Homo sapiens: one gene and its partner. The protein of the gene in region 1 purifies or fractionates together with the protein of each later gene. This does not show direct contact. Each region holds a gene or a part of one and is shown on either strand. Other genes may lie near its edges.

The links. Proteins that work in one complex are often made in the same cells at the same time.
Region 2: the proteins of CARD6 (region 1) and RIPK2 purify together in Homo sapiens (affinity purification with western blotting; 2 studies listed by BioGRID and IntAct, with this or other methods). This does not show direct contact.

The regions. Positions count from the first base shown.
Region 1 is NC_000005.10:40,836,649-40,844,370, forward strand, and holds the start of CARD6 (caspase recruitment domain-containing protein 6), read left to right. Parts: upstream 1-4,718; 5' UTR 4,719-4,734; coding exon 4,735-5,017; intron 5,018-6,503; coding exon 6,504-7,061; intron 7,062-7,722. UniProt on the Homo sapiens protein: May be involved in apoptosis.
Region 2 is NC_000008.11:89,752,831-89,760,835, reverse strand, and holds the start of RIPK2 (receptor-interacting serine/threonine-protein kinase 2), read right to left. Parts: upstream 3,021-8,005; 5' UTR 2,776-3,020; coding exon 2,603-2,775; intron 1-2,602.

The DNA of each region.
Region 1 (7,722 bases):
AAATCCTGCAAAGGGAAACCTTGGATAAGTGGAGACTACTGTAGTCTTTCTCACATTGCATTACTCTTTATTCTGCATCTGTCTTATTCTTTTTCCTTTCCTTTTATTTTTATTTGTAGTAGAGACAAGGTCTCACTGTTGTCCAGACTGGTCTTGAACTCCTGAATCTTCCTGTCTTGGTCTCTCAAAGGGTTCGGGTGCCCTGCCATCCTTCTCCTACTTTTAAGGCCCCTTGTGATTACATTGACTCCATCCAGGTAACTTCCTTATCTCGAGTTTCGCTAATTAGCAACCTTAATTCCCTCTGCAATTATAATTGTCCTTTGCCACATAACCTAATTTATTCGTAGGTTGAGGGGATTAATACCTTGTTATCTTTGGAGACAGCCATTATTCTGCCTACCACGGGGACTATGAGAAATGAGGTCAGTGTAGAAAAGGTAGGACAGGTGTCAACCATTAAGGAACCAAGCAGTGTGACAGGCATTATGTCAGTCTCTTTACTCCAGACATTCCCAGAATTGAAGACAGGAGAGAATTATTTTTCCTCCTCTCTCTAGTGTTCGGTGGTTCTTTTTGGTGTATGTCAAACCATGTAAATTTTGCCCTGATCAAGTAAACCCTTGGCTTTCTTTAAAGAGGTCTATGAAGGCTAGTCAGACCCTCCAATTTTCTATACAATTGCTAGGTTTAGGTCAGGGCTAGTGACTGTATCAACTTTTTTTTTTTTTTTTTTTTTGAGACAGGGTCTCACCTGTCACCTGGCCTGGAGTGCAGTGGTGCCATCGCGACTCACTGCAACCTCTACCTCCCGGGTTCAAGCAATTCTTGTGCCTCAGCCTCCCAAGTAGCTGGGACTACAGGCGCACGCCACCACCACGCCTGGCTAATATTTTGTATTTTTAGTAGAGACAGGGTTTCACCATGTTGGCCAGGCTGGTCTCGAACTCCTGACCTCCAGTGATCAGCACCCCCTCAGTCTCCCAAAGTTCTGGGATGACAGGTGTGAGCCACCACGCCCAGCCAGGACTAGATCAACATCTGAAACGGATGATCTAAGGCTGTTAGCCTAGGCATTCACCCCCTGACATTTTGCTTTTTGGCAGTGATAGAAACTATGTTAAGTCCTGCATCCATGGTTCTGATACAATCAAGTCTCTTGACCACCAGGACTCAGCACTGAGACCTGCCTCTTTTTATTTCTACAATACATGAAATTACTGTTGACTTTTGTCTTTAAAACATCACATAAATTCATTAGGAGCAATTCAAGGGAGAATTTACTGTACATTCATACCTATGATAAAGTTTAATTTATGAATTAGCACGGTAAGATTAACAACAACTAATAATAAGGCTGGGTGCGGTGGCTTACACCTGTATCCCAGCACTTTGGGAGGCTGAGGCAGGCAGATCACCTGAGGTTGGGAGTTCGAGACTAGCCTAACAAAACAAAACAAAAAAAGCTCAAAAAACAACAATAATAAAATAGAACACATTTAAAACTTTTAATCCTGTGTTATTATTCTGATTTGAGGTCTATACTTTCAATTTTGTACCTCCTGGCTATATTTTATATAATAGAGAACATCCTGGTTACACTCATCCTTCCCCCACCTCACTTCCTTTGCATTCTAAGGCTGTGGTATGCAAATTTCTGTTATTAAGAAACAATTTTTTTTTTTGAGACGGAGTTTTGCTCTTGTTGCCCAGGCTGGAGTGCAATGATGCTATCTTGGCTCACCGCAACCTCCGTCTCCCGGGGTCAAGTGATTCTCCTGCCTCAGCCTCTCAAGTAGCTGGGATTACAGGCATCGACCACCATGCCCGGCTAATTTTGTATTTTTAGTAGAGATGGGGTTTCTCCATGTTGGTCAGGCTGGTCTTGAACTCCCGACCTCAGGTGATCCGCCCACCTCAGCCTCCCAAAGTGCTGGGATTACAGGCGTGAGCCACCGCACCCGGCCATCAACAAACAATTTAAACTAGACAGCCTGGCATGGTGGCTTACACTTGTAATCGCAGCACTCTGGGAGGCTAAGGTGGGAGGATCACTTGAGCCCAGGACAGCCTGGGCAACATAGAGAGACCCCATCTCTACAAATAATAAAAAAAATATGGTTCACGCCTGTAATCTTAGCACTTTGGGAGGCCAAGGCGGGAAGATTGCTTAAACCGAGGAGTTCGAGACCAGCCTGGACAATGTAGTGAAACCCTGTCTCCACAAAATTTTTTTTTTAAAAAGAGCTGAACAGGTTGGCGCAAGCCTATACTCCCAGCTGCTCAGGAAGCTGAGGGGGGAGGATTGCTTGAGCCCAGGAGTTTGAGGCTGCTGTGAGCTATGATTGCACCATTGCACTCCAGTCAGGGCAACAGAGTGAGACTCTGTTTCAAAACAAAACAAAAGGAAAACTTGTAGAAAGAAGTTTAAATTTCAGTGCTAAGTTTCCCACTTCAAGTGAACACTTTTTTCCCATTGGCTTTGAAATCTCAGAAAGGTTACTGTGAGAAAGGAGCATATTTAGGGTTGAGCATTGGAGAGGAGACTGGTGGTTTGGGACACCTGTTATTAAAGTACCTTCCTGGTCAAGTTGAACAACAACAACAAAAAATTGGCAATCTTTATGACAGTGCCAATCAAATTGTGGACATGAGGTGGGATGCATCACTTGAAAGCCATACTTTTGAGATACATATTTTAAAACTCTTACCTAGAGTATAATGGTGGTTACCAGAGAGAGGCTGGGAGTTGCGGGGAAGGGAAGGGTGCTGGTCAAAGGATACAAAGTCACAGACAGGAGGAATAAATTATAAGTATTGAAGGTGATGTATATGTTAATTTGAGTGAATCATTCCATACTGCATACATATAAAATTACTGAATATCCCATAACTATATATGATTATAATTGGTCAAAGTAAATAAAAATTTTAAAACTCTTCAATTTTATAAAACTCTTACCTAATATTAATTTTTAATATCATATGAGGATTTTTTTTTTTAAGAGCCTAGGCTAGAGTAACTTACTACAACCTCAAACTTCTGGGCCGAAGCAGCTCTCCTGCCTCAGCCTCCTGTCCCAAGCAGCTGGGACTACAGATGCGCACCATCACGACCAGATAATTTTTAAATTTTTTGTAGAGACAGGGTCTTGCTATGTTGCTCAGGTTGGCCTCAAACTCCTGGTCTCAAGTGATCTTCCTCAGACTCCCAAAGTGCTGGGATTACAGGCATGAGCCACCTCGCCCAGCCAGGATTTTAAAATTCTTTTTTAACCTTGGAGATACCAGAATTGTATTACTCATTATCCTTGGTTCCTAATAGCATTGGTTCATGCATGTTCTGCTTTTATTTACATATTAGCTATTTACCTTTAACAATATAGTAGCCCTGATAGGCCCAACTCCTACATTGTAGGACATCCATGATCTCCTCCCCAATCCCATCCCATCCCCAAGCTCCCCATATGCGAGGTAACCATCATTCTGAATTTCATATTTATCATTCTTTGCTTTTTGTTTTGTATAATTTTAATGACTTCATGTATACTCTTAAATGTAAGGGTGTGTTTATTTTCAACTTTTAAAAAGGTTGTCATACTGTATATAATCTTTTGGGATTTACAGTTTTTCCTTACTATTGTTATGATTTCTCTATATTGTGGGTCACTGAAGTTCATTCTTTTTGAATGCCATGTAATATTATGTTATAAGAAATATCACAGTTTATTCATCCAGTATCCTGTTGCTAGTTATGCAGATCGCTTTCAGGTTCTTGTGAACTATGAAGGAGTAAATAAAGACCAACCAGGTAATTTTCTTAAAATAAATAATAATAAAAAACCAAAAATGTAAAATATTAAATAGTAATGTTTAAAGTGGAAGTATAAATCTCCCTGTAGTCATATTCTCAGAGATAACCAGTGTTAAAATTTGGGATATCTCTTGTCTTCTTTAAAATATAATGCATATCTGCATATACATATTATATACATATACTATATACACATTAAGTTTTTTAAAACAAAAATGAGATCTATAACTTGCTGTTTCCATAGCAATATATCATGGATATCATTACTTGTCAATATGTAGAGATGTACTTTATCCTTTTTAACAGTTCTTTGGTGTTTCACTGTCGACATGTCAATATTTATTCCCTAAACCCCAACTTTGGTTATTTTCAATTTTGTACTGTTGTAAACAATGTTGTAATGCAGATTCTTGTACATACATCTTCGGGCATTTGCTCAATTATTTCCTTAAGATAATTTCCTAGAACTGGAATTGCTGGGTTGAAGGATATGAAGTTTTATTTTTGTCTGTCTTCAACTTTATTTATTTATTGCTGTATATTGCCATATTGCCCACCAAATATCAATTAATAATTTACATTCTTGGCATCATAGTATAGTTCTCTGAGCAGGGAATACCTAGTCCAACCTGAAGTTCAAGAGCGACTTCTTGGAGGAGGTGACCCTGGGTCTGAGTCATGGTGAGAATTTATCAAGACTTCAAAAGAGCAGATAAATAATCCACAAGGACCCCGGATCAGAGAGTGCTCCGAGCTGGGTTGCCCCACTGTGCTTGTATCTGCACTCTCCAACACTAGGCATCATTGACATGTTAAAGCTTAGCCAAATAGAATTGTTCTTTGTCATTCTTTTTTTAACTTTTACTTATTCATTAGGATGATTTCATAATATATTTCCTGGTTTAGAGGAAACAGGAACAATGGCTACCGAGAGTACTCCCTCAGAGATCATAGAAAGAGAAAGAAAAAAGTTGCTTGAAATCCTTCAACATGATCCTGATTCTATCTTAGACACGTTAACTTCTCGGAGGCTGATTTCTGAGGAAGAGTATGAGACTCTGGAGAATGTTACAGATCTCCTGAAGAAAAGTCGGAAGCTGTTAATTTTGGTACAGAAAAAGGGAGAGGCGACCTGTCAGCATTTTCTCAAGTGTTTATTTAGTACTTTTCCACAGTCAGCTGCCATTTGCGGCTTAAGGCATGGTAAGTTGACTTTGTATACTTTTTGGGGTGAGAGGAAGGGGGCAGACTTTCTGAAAAAGAAAACAAAATGAAAGAAAATTGTTGCCTTTTATTTTTGTTAGTCTTTTTCTGGAGATAATTTTCATTGAAATATGAAATAGGGAAAAACTGGAATTTAAAAAGTTTCTGAAATTTAACATCTTATTGGTCTACTGAATCGATAATTTGTTTTTCAGACTGTACTCAAAACTTGAAGTTGTTTTAGTGCTAACAAACTGCTCATTATTCTGGCAGTAACATGCTAAAATCTCACAGTTGGAAGGAAAATACTTTAATAATAACACAATCCAGGGTTTGTTTTTCAAGTAGATGAATTCGTGGATATTTACAGTGCCAAGACCACAAGCTGTATCTTTCACTTAGTATAGCCGTTTTGAAAATACAAGGAAAATAATTTTTAACACATAGATGGCAAATCAGTAGTTTCATTTTTTTGGTGATAAGAATGCCAGCAGCAGCTGTTTTCTGGAGCAATTCCAGTGCTAATTCTTAAATGGTTCAAAGATAACTAGTAGTCCATGAAAAAGCAATTCTTCCAGTTATTTAGCAATTCTGTAAATTACTACTAGGACTAGGTCTAGCTCTTTTTCTAGGAATCTAAAAAAAAATTCAAAATTATTTTAAGGGATGTTAGAGAGGTAGAGGCTCAGATAAAAAGGTGAATGTTAGTGATACCTAATTTAGGACAAGATTTATATGCTTAGAAATTTTTCTTTTATTATTTCTAAAGCACACTATTCCAAATAGAGCCATTTGCTTACTGATTAGAAATTATTTGTGATCAGATTTCATTAGCAATGACCCCAAGAGACGTGAGTCTGTTGTGAGTCACAGTAAGTCCACAAGTAAACACTGTTCATATGATTCAAATTTTTCGTTTTATTCACTTACCCTGTAAGGTTGCTAGGAAGGACTCAAACTTTAAGCAAGACAGTGGTGTGATCTGATTTTTTTTTTTAGTGGAAAAAAGAAAGTTCTGAAAGTTGACATGTTGACATGCAAGTTATATAGGAGGTGTTAGGTATTCCTGTCCTCCAGTGAAATAAGAGGTGGCTGGGCGCTGTGGCTCACACCTGTAATCCCAGCACTTTGGGAGGCCGGGGCAGATGGATCACCTGAGGTCAGGAGTTTGAGACCAGCCTGACCAACATAGTGAAACACTGTCTCTACTAAAAATACAAAAATTAGCTGGGCATCATGGCGCATGCCTGTAATCCCAGCTACTTGGGAGACTGAGGCAGGGGAATCACCTGAACCCGGGAGGTTGAGGTTGCAGTGAGCCCAGATCGTGCCATTGCACTCCAGCCTCGGCAACAAGAGTGAAACTCTGTCTCAAAAAATAAATAAATAAATAAAAGGAGAGGGATGAAGCTTTGAGGCCTCAGGAACTCTAGCTGTTATACAGCTTCTTTTTCTTAATTGGGAAAAACAATTCTTTTCTTTGCAGAAGTTTTAAAACATGAGAATACAGTACCTCCTCAATCTATGGGGGCAAGCAGTAATTCAGAAGATGCTTTTTCTCCTGGAATAAAACAGCCTGAAGCCCCTGAGATCACAGTGTTCTTCAGTGAGAAGGAACACTTGGATTTGGAAACCTCTGAGTTTTTCAGGGACAAGAAAACTAGTTATAGGGAAACAGCTTTGTCTGCCAGGAAGAATGAGAAGGAATATGACACACCAGAAGTCACATTATCATATTCAGTTGAGAAAGTTGGATGTGAAGTTCCAGCAACTATTACATATATAAAAGATGGACAGAGATATGAGGAGCTAGATGATTCTTTATACTTAGGAAAAGAGGAATATCTAGGATCTGTTGACACCCCTGAAGATGCAGAAGCCACTGTGGAAGAGGAGGTTTATGATGACCCAGAGCACGTTGGATATGATGGTGAAGAGGACTTCGAGAATTCAGAAACCACAGAGTTCTCTGGTGAAGAACCAAGTTATGAGGGATCAGAAACCAGCCTTTCATTGGAGGAGGAACAGGAGAAAAGTATAGAAGGTATGGAAATATCTTGTATAGTTAGTTAGGCAACAACTTAATAAGTTAATAAGCTTGCCATGACATAATGGGGATGGGGGATGAAAAAGGGACAGATGTCAGCAGAAAATCAACTACTAAGAAATTCCTCGTGCCTCTCTGACCTGGAATCTCCTCGAGGTAGGTGTTGACTTAAAGGAGCTCCCAGGACCTAGGAAATGATGGACAGCATAAGCAAAAGTAAATATTGATTGTCAGTTTGTAAATTTCTGTAGTTCGTATAAGGAGTTGCCAATCATTAATTTCCCATTATACGTACGAGGAGTTGCTAATCATTAATTTCAGGCTAACCTATTTCTCAGGTTAAACCACTTTAGTTATTTTAGTGCCTTTGTGACCAGAGAGATATGGGGATTATGGGTTTGACTATTTAAGTGAAAACAGTCAGTAAATGGCTAAGATCCCAAAATATTGTTACTTGGCTTGATCCAGTCCACATAATGCCATCTTGATGAGAATTATATTTGTATCTTGAATCTGAATATTTCTTTATTTAAAAAAAATTTGTTTTTAAACAGGGTCTCACTCAGGCTGGAGTGCAGTGGCACAATCATGACTCACCGCAGCCTCTACCTCCCAGGCTCGGGTGATCCTCCTACCTCAGCCTCCTGAGTAGCTAGCA
Region 2 (8,005 bases), on another chromosome or scaffold:
ACACACTCTTTCCTCCTCCCATTAAGAGGCATTCTTCTTTCCACTGTGACCCTATTACATGTCAGTCACTTTATATGCACTAGCATCTTAAGATCACCCTCTAAACATAGTTTCATTAGCTCCACTTTATAAATGAGGGCACTAAGGCTCAGAAAAATTAATACTTTTCTAATGGTCACACTAATAAGTGGCAGGGTTGGCGTCAGATTTGAATTGCAATCATGGGACATTAAAGCCTGCATTCTTTCTACCCTATTGCTTGATCAAAGAATATAGTAGGAAAGTTCTTGAAGGTAGATTTTTGGCAAGATTGAGTGAGTGGGAAATTTTTTTTAAAGCCAAAAGATTTTAAAAATTGATTTTTACATTTTGAAAATAAAGGTGTAAAGTACAGCTTCCATAGTCACATCACCAAAATTAACTCAAAAATTTAATCAGAAAAGTTATGTCATCTACAGGGTATTTGAACAACCAATTGGACTCATTACTCATAAGGGGTGGGAAGATTGTTGGGGAAGGTCCACTCATCGGATAGAAGTCAGGTTATGGAGACTGATTCACCAGTCATTAAAATAAGAGCATGTAACATTGCATAAACTTATTTTTTTTCAGGTCATCCCAAAGAACAATGCAAACATTGTTCTCCATAGTCCGAGAAACACATGTATTTATTATTCGTATTTTATAAGTGAGGAAAGAGACACCAGTGAGTCAACTGCATAGCCTCATCTAATGCTCAGACTACATAAATACTGCAATGATAAGATCTTAAGTAACAAATTGGAGAAAAGAATGTGATGCAGTAAATGCCAGAGTGTTTCGCTGGTCTTATGGCTTCCTCGAAGACAGAATTAATTTCCTACCCAATTCAGTGAAGAATTTTAGACTATGAAAATTGTTCATGAGTATGGGAAGGAAACTCCCTCTTCACTTCTTGGTCCCCAAACTGCACAAAGCTTAGATAAATCAAAATCCTGAGAAGCAGCACCCAAAGTGGGAGGATCAATTGGCTTTTCAATACCTAATGGGTCCATCAGTGCTACATTTCCATATAGTGTTTGCATAACTGGTTCTAACATATATCCACCCTCTCTAACCAACCACCACCCTTAAAAGTTGACTACAGACACATATACACACTTGTCCAGCACTTGCTCCACAGAATATAAGGCCTGGAGTAAACAGACACCACACCTTGTATATCACTGAATCTGGATTATGATAGACAAGAAGTGGAAACAAGCTCTAGAAGTGTCCCAAATCTCCTGTGCCATTTAGGCCATCGAAGCCTGACAGTGAGAGACAATGAAGAAAAGCCACAGGCAGGTGAAAATCCAGTAACTTTGGCAGGGCGGAAGCTGAGGAATTTATCTGATGCTGGATACTCACAGCTTCTGGCCAATCAGGCATCGGGGATGACGTATTTTCACATTAGATATAGGAGGAGGAGAAGAGAATGTTGTAATCATGGATGTTAACTCACTAAGAACTGAATGCTGGGCCTAGTTAAATCCCTGTAGGAAGTAAAATACACAAGACTAGTGACCCATTGACTAATACACAGTCACAGGTCTATGGCACGCGGTTGTAATGTTCTTCTGAAAACAGAAACTAATGCTAACCTTCCCTTAAAACCTGTACAAACCAATAAGTGAAAGCCATTTACAATTTCTGGCCATTTAACAGTCTTTTGGTTCAATTTATTGTGGCAAAAATAGCACACATTTCCTCTACTTAATCTTCCCTGTGAGAGAAACTGAGACTGGGAGAAACTGAACTGCTAGTATTGAGTTTGATATAAAACGTTCCTGACAACACATAATAAACCAAAACCAAAATAAAAACAATAAGAAGCAAAACATCCTTGATTCTAAAGCAGTGCGGTCCAATAAACATATAATGTGAACACCACCACATACAATTTAAAATTTTCTCGTGGCCACATAAAGTAAAAAGAAACACATAAAATGAATTTTAATCTTATATTTAACCCAAGATATCAAAAATGTTATTTCAGCATATAATCAATAAACAAATAATAAAATATTATAAGTTCTTTTTTTAATAAATACTAAGCATTCGAACTCTGGTATTTTACACTTAGGTCACACTTCAATTCGGACGGGCACATTTCAAGTGCTCAATAGCCACCTGTGGCTAAGAGCTACCTACTGGACAGTGCAGCCCTACAGCCCAATTTCAAAAATAAGGAAAAAACAAAGCAAACAAAACCCACACCCACTATATATAAACACACATCAATTTCAGTAAACCCAGCGTTTAGAGTTAGGCAGTGATTGCTGATTTTTGGAGTACGGAGCCAGAACGCCTAGGAGTAAGAGGGAAGGAGAGAAAGGGTAATGGAGAGATGTGTGGAGGAATGCAACTGCTGCATCTCCAGAGAAGCCTGTGCTCCCTACGGTGCCAGAGCTTGAAGGGTGGGTGCTCCCTATCTCCCAAGCTTGAAGGGCTCCCTAGAGGTGACGAGGTGAGGCCGGCCCCAAGCGGTCACTGCCATTTGGGCTCTAGAGCCCGCTTGTCAGGGGGCTTGAGGGGATGCAGGAGTTGAGGGCTCTTCCAGGGAACCCCAGTGACTGCCTACCTGTCGAGCAGCGGAGTGTGGATGTGCAGGTGCTTCACGGCCACCTGGACGCGCCAGTCTGCGTGGCGGGCGGACGACACAGTGCCAGAGGCGCCGCGGCTCAGGTAGCGCAGGTCGGCGAGTTTGTGGTAGGGAATGGTGGGCAGGGCGCTGCAGATGGCCTCCCCGTTCATGGTCCCGGGCGCTCAGGCCGGTTCCGGGTGTGCCCCCTGCTGCGGCGGCTCCCAAGGCTCCCACGCCGCGCTCAGGCGCCCAGATACGCCCCTGCACGAGCGAGGCCGGCAAGACCCTTTTTGCCCCGCAACACTAGGTCACGAGGGCGCCCATTCCCCGGATGGCCCACGCCAGCCGCTGCTTCTCCGAACCAGAGCTGACTTCTTTTCTAGAGACTGGTGCCAACGCCGTAGCGCCGCGAAAGAGCTTCCTCTCTCGCAGCCCCGGCCCTCCCCCCGGCGCGCGCAGCGACCAGCTCCGGCCGCCCGAGCTCCTCCCTCCCCAAACTTCGCAGGTTACGTCAGCGGCGGACGGCAAGGCGGGGAGAGGGGCAGCCCGCTCGCGGCCCTCCCGCCTGGCTCTCGCCTCGGCCTGCGGCCGGGATCCTCCGCCCGGGTCGCGCAGCGGAGGCCGAGGGCTGGGACGGGCGGCTGGGAAGTGGGAAAGGGAGCTCCTTTTGTCTTCTCTTCCCATCCCCCAGGTTTGGGAAAGTTTTCCTTTTGGGAAAGCCCCTCTCTTCAGCCTGCTGGCGGGTGTCGGATTGGTTAGCGACCACCGGCCCCCGCCTCCCCCAACAGGATTCTCCTTTGGGCCACAGGTCTTCCGGAAGTTGCCAAACCCCGGTAGCGGCAGCGTCCGGCTGGGGGCTTTATTAGGGGGCACCGGGGTCTGCTTTCCGACTCCCTTCCGACTCCGCGCCTGCGCAGGAAGCGATTTGGGGAGTGTTGTGAATTCCGAGGGCTCCACACTTAAGAGGTTGTACACTCACCTGTCTACCTGGACTCCAATTTCCATATTTCCAGCCACTTGAGGACTGAGAGGTGGATGATAAACCCTGTCATAGTGGAGCAAGTTCAGGTGTTTAACCGCTGTTATGGGGGATCTGCCTTTTCTCCCTCTTCTTTCTTACTTCCATAAGTATGTATGTGCAGAGATTGAAAAATAACCTTGAGAGAGTCCATCCATCTAACTCCAGGTAAGACTGCAAATATTTCTTTCTTATAAATCTGGGAGGAATGCAGTCAGTGTTTCATGCCAACCAAAAAAGACTGCAAACGTTTTTCCATCCTTCTGCCTTGAATACCTTTCTACTTAGATGACTATTTTGTAAGACGTGAGTGCAAATGTTATATACAATACCAACTCCATACTAGATGTTTAATTAATTCTAGGGATTCAGTAATAAGGAATGACTCGAACAGATTTCTGCCTACAGACAGCTAATGCTTCTTGTATTTTTGCATTACCTGAAATGAAAGTAGCAATGTTAGATTTTACAGTAGTGGGAGGTTGTAAACAATAGTATGTTAAACATTTTTGATCATTTATAATAAAATGTTCAGCACTAAACATATGGTCTGATACTCTGTGCTTTATTGCTTAATAAGCTTTTTTTTTTCTTTTCGAGAGGGAGTCGTGCTCTGTCACCCAGGCTGGAGTGTAGTGGCGCGATCTCTGCTCTGCTCATTGCAACCTCTGCCTCCCTGGTTCAAGCAATTCTTCTGCCTCAGCCTCCCAAGTAGCTTGGATTACAGGCGCCCGCCACCACACCCAGCTAATTTTTGTATTTTTAGTAGAGACGGGGTTTCACCGTGTTGGCCAAGCTGGTCTCGAACTCCTGACCTCGTGATCCGCCCACCTTGTCCTCCCAAAGTGCTGGGATTACAGGCGTGAGCCACCGCGCCCGGCCAATAAGCTTTTTTCTTAAAAAGTACTCAGAAGACTTTTCTATCCATTCATTCTGTTAACGCGCGTCAGTGTGAAGAGACCACCAAACAGGCTTTGGGTGAGCAATAAAGCTTTTAATCATGTGGGTGTAGGCCGACTTAGTTCGAAAAAGGAGTCAGCAAAGGGAGATAGGGGTGAGGCAGTCTTTATAGGATTTGGGTAGGTAGTGGAAAATTACAGTTAAAGGGGGTTTTTCTCTTGCGGGCAGGGGTGGGGGTCACAAGGTGCTCAGTGGGGAGCTCCTGAGACTCATTGTCCAGGAGAAGGAGTGTCACAAGGTCCATTGATCAGTTAGGGAAGGGCAGGAACAAATCGCAATCGTGGAATGTCATCAGTTAAGGTAGGAACTGGCTATTTTCACTTTTGTGGTTCTTCAGTGGCTTCAGGCCATCTGGATGTATACGTGCAGGTCACAGGGTATATGATGGCTTAGCTTGGGCTCAGAGGCCTGACATGTTTATCCAGTCAATTAATTAAAAACCTGAGTCCTAGAAAAAGAGAACAAAAAATAAACAGGGAAGAAATGATCAAAATAATAATTTAAAAATTTTTGCTAGGGCAGGAGTCTTCATATTTAAAGGGCCCACCAAGTAAAAAGACCTACATTAAGGCACATACATCATTAAAAGGGTGAGAACACTAACACTAAAGGGAAGATTCTAAACGTTTTCAGAGGGCGGAAACAAAAATTAAAGAGATGGGAATTAGAATGGCATTGAATTTCTTAACAATGTTACTAAGTCATTGTTATCCTGAAATATAATGAAGTGAAATTTTTCCAATATTCTGAAGGACAGTAACTTCCAACTTAGAATTCTATAGTCAAACTTTCCGTCAAATGTAAGGGCAGAATAAAAACATTTTCACATATACAAGAATGAAATACTTTCTTTCCATGTCATTTTTTTTTTTTAAAGAAAGCTCCTAGAGAATGTGTTCAGCAAAACATGGGAGTAGCCCAAGAAAAAGAAAGACATGAGATCCAGAAAACCGGACCAGGAAATTAAGAAGGGAAACTCCAGGATGAGAGAAATATGGCAGAATTGGAGAGCAACCCATTTTCACTGAACAGGGAGATGGCAGACTTCAAGAGAAAACAGTAGTTACAGTAATTGAAATGATAGATTATCTAATTTTGAGTATTTGAGAAATTATATTGATAGATGTTTGATAGATCTAATGAACTATGGGATAAAATTGGAGAATGAATTGTAAAAAAAAATACAAGTAAAAAAAGGAGACAATTGTTAATTCCATGAAAATTACATCAGAAGGGAGACAACATTTCTCTAAACTGTTTTGTGGTGGTGAAAAATGTAGAACTTTTCAGAACTTTTGAAATGCTAATATGCATCTCTAAGAAGGAGAGAGCATGAAGCATAGAACTTCATGGAATTTATTTGTATTGTTAATTACATTACTTTTAAATTTACTTTTTAAAACCATATCACATGGTTTAAAATTTAAAACAATAAGGACTCATAATGCAATAGAAAAATTGAGAAGAGGACTTAGATACCTTGAAAAAGAGGTGAAAAGGTTCTCAACATCATTAATTATCAGGGAATCACAAATTTTATTCACATTGCAACACTACTATCCAAACAGTAGAATGAATAAAATTAAAAAGACAGAATATACCAAGTGTGAGTGAGGATTTGGAGCAACAGGAGCTCTTGTACACTGCTCATGGGAGTGTTGATTGGTTCAATCAATTTTGTAAATTGTATGTCAGTATCTATTAAAATTGTAGATATGCAGATCCTATGACCCAGTAATTCCTTGCTTCGGTATGTGGACATGTGTATGCATCTACTAGAATGTTCATAGCAGTGGTGTTTATAATAGCCTCAAACTGGAAATTACCCAGATATCCATAAATAGTAGAATAGATAAATACATTTTGGCACATTTATGCAATATAATACTAAATGGGAATGAAATTAAACAGTGTACAAATATAATGTTGGATGAAAAAAGCCAGATACAGAAGAGTACATATTGCATGAGTCCATTTGTATAAAGTACAAAAATAAATAAAACTAACTTATGCTTATAGAAATCTTCTCTCTAGTAGGGGAGAGGCATTGATTAGAAGGGAATCATGAGGTATTTAGGATGATGGTAATGTTCTATTTTTTGATTCAGGACCTAGGCTGTAGGTGCCAGTTGCATGGGTGTGTTCAGTTTATGAAAATTCTTGGAGATTACACTCACATTCACTTTTCTGAATATAGTACTTCAATAAAAAGTTAATTGGTTTAAATATAAAATAAACATGCACATATATATAGGCATATATTGTATATGCATATATAAATATAGATTTATATATTATATTACTTCTGTTTATATTTATATATTTAAAATATATAAATATATTTAAAATATATATATTTATTTTAAATATATATTTTAAATATATATATTTATTTTAAATATATATTTTAAATATATAAATATATATATTTTAAATATATAAATATATATTTTAAATATATATAAATATGTATATATAAATATATATTTATATATTAATATATATATATACTATGTGTGCATGTTTACATTTAATTATATATAAATTATATATAAAATATATATATAAAATATCTGTCCCTTTTATGTAATTATTATAACACTATATACTCGTCTACTTTGCTTACTTTTCACTTAATGTATCTTGGATATCTTTCCATATGAATGCATAAAAAGCTCTCTTATCTTTTTTATTTTCTAGACGCTGATGGATATACCATAATTTATCCCCCATTGATAGGCATTTACTTTGTTTTCACACATATGCTATTACAGATAATGCTGCAATAGTTAATTTTTGCTTATGTTATTTCATACATATATATCTACGTATTCCAGAAGCCAAATTGCAGGATCAGAGTATGTTGGTTTGTAACTTTGGTTGATGTCATTGAATTGTTCTTCATTGAAGTTATACTAATTTTCTTTTCCTGTAGATGATGAAAATAGCTATTTCTCCACACACTTACTTTCCTTCCTTTTAAAGATGGATAGTACGTTGTTGGTCTGCTGATTCCTGAAGTGTTCGGTGCTTCTAAATTCATGTAAATGCTAAGATTCTTTTTATCACAAGCCTTCTAAATATTTTTTAATCACCACCTTAAACCTTTAGCTTTCATGATAGGTTTTACCAGTATACAGTTTTAAAAACATATATTATTAGTCATATATGGGAATTAATTAAATTATATATTTCTTCATATACATATAGTTCAATTCCCACAATTAATTGGCTAAAGATAGAAAGTTTAAGGGATATCGATGCTGAAATACATCAACTAAACAAGAAAGAAAATATTAGAATATTTACGCAAAGTAGGCTTAAAAAACAAGAATCACATCTATATGTTGATTTCATCTGTTCAAAATTCTATAAAATTACATCAATATTTGTTTTTCCGTGAGATAAGGGTTATTTATACC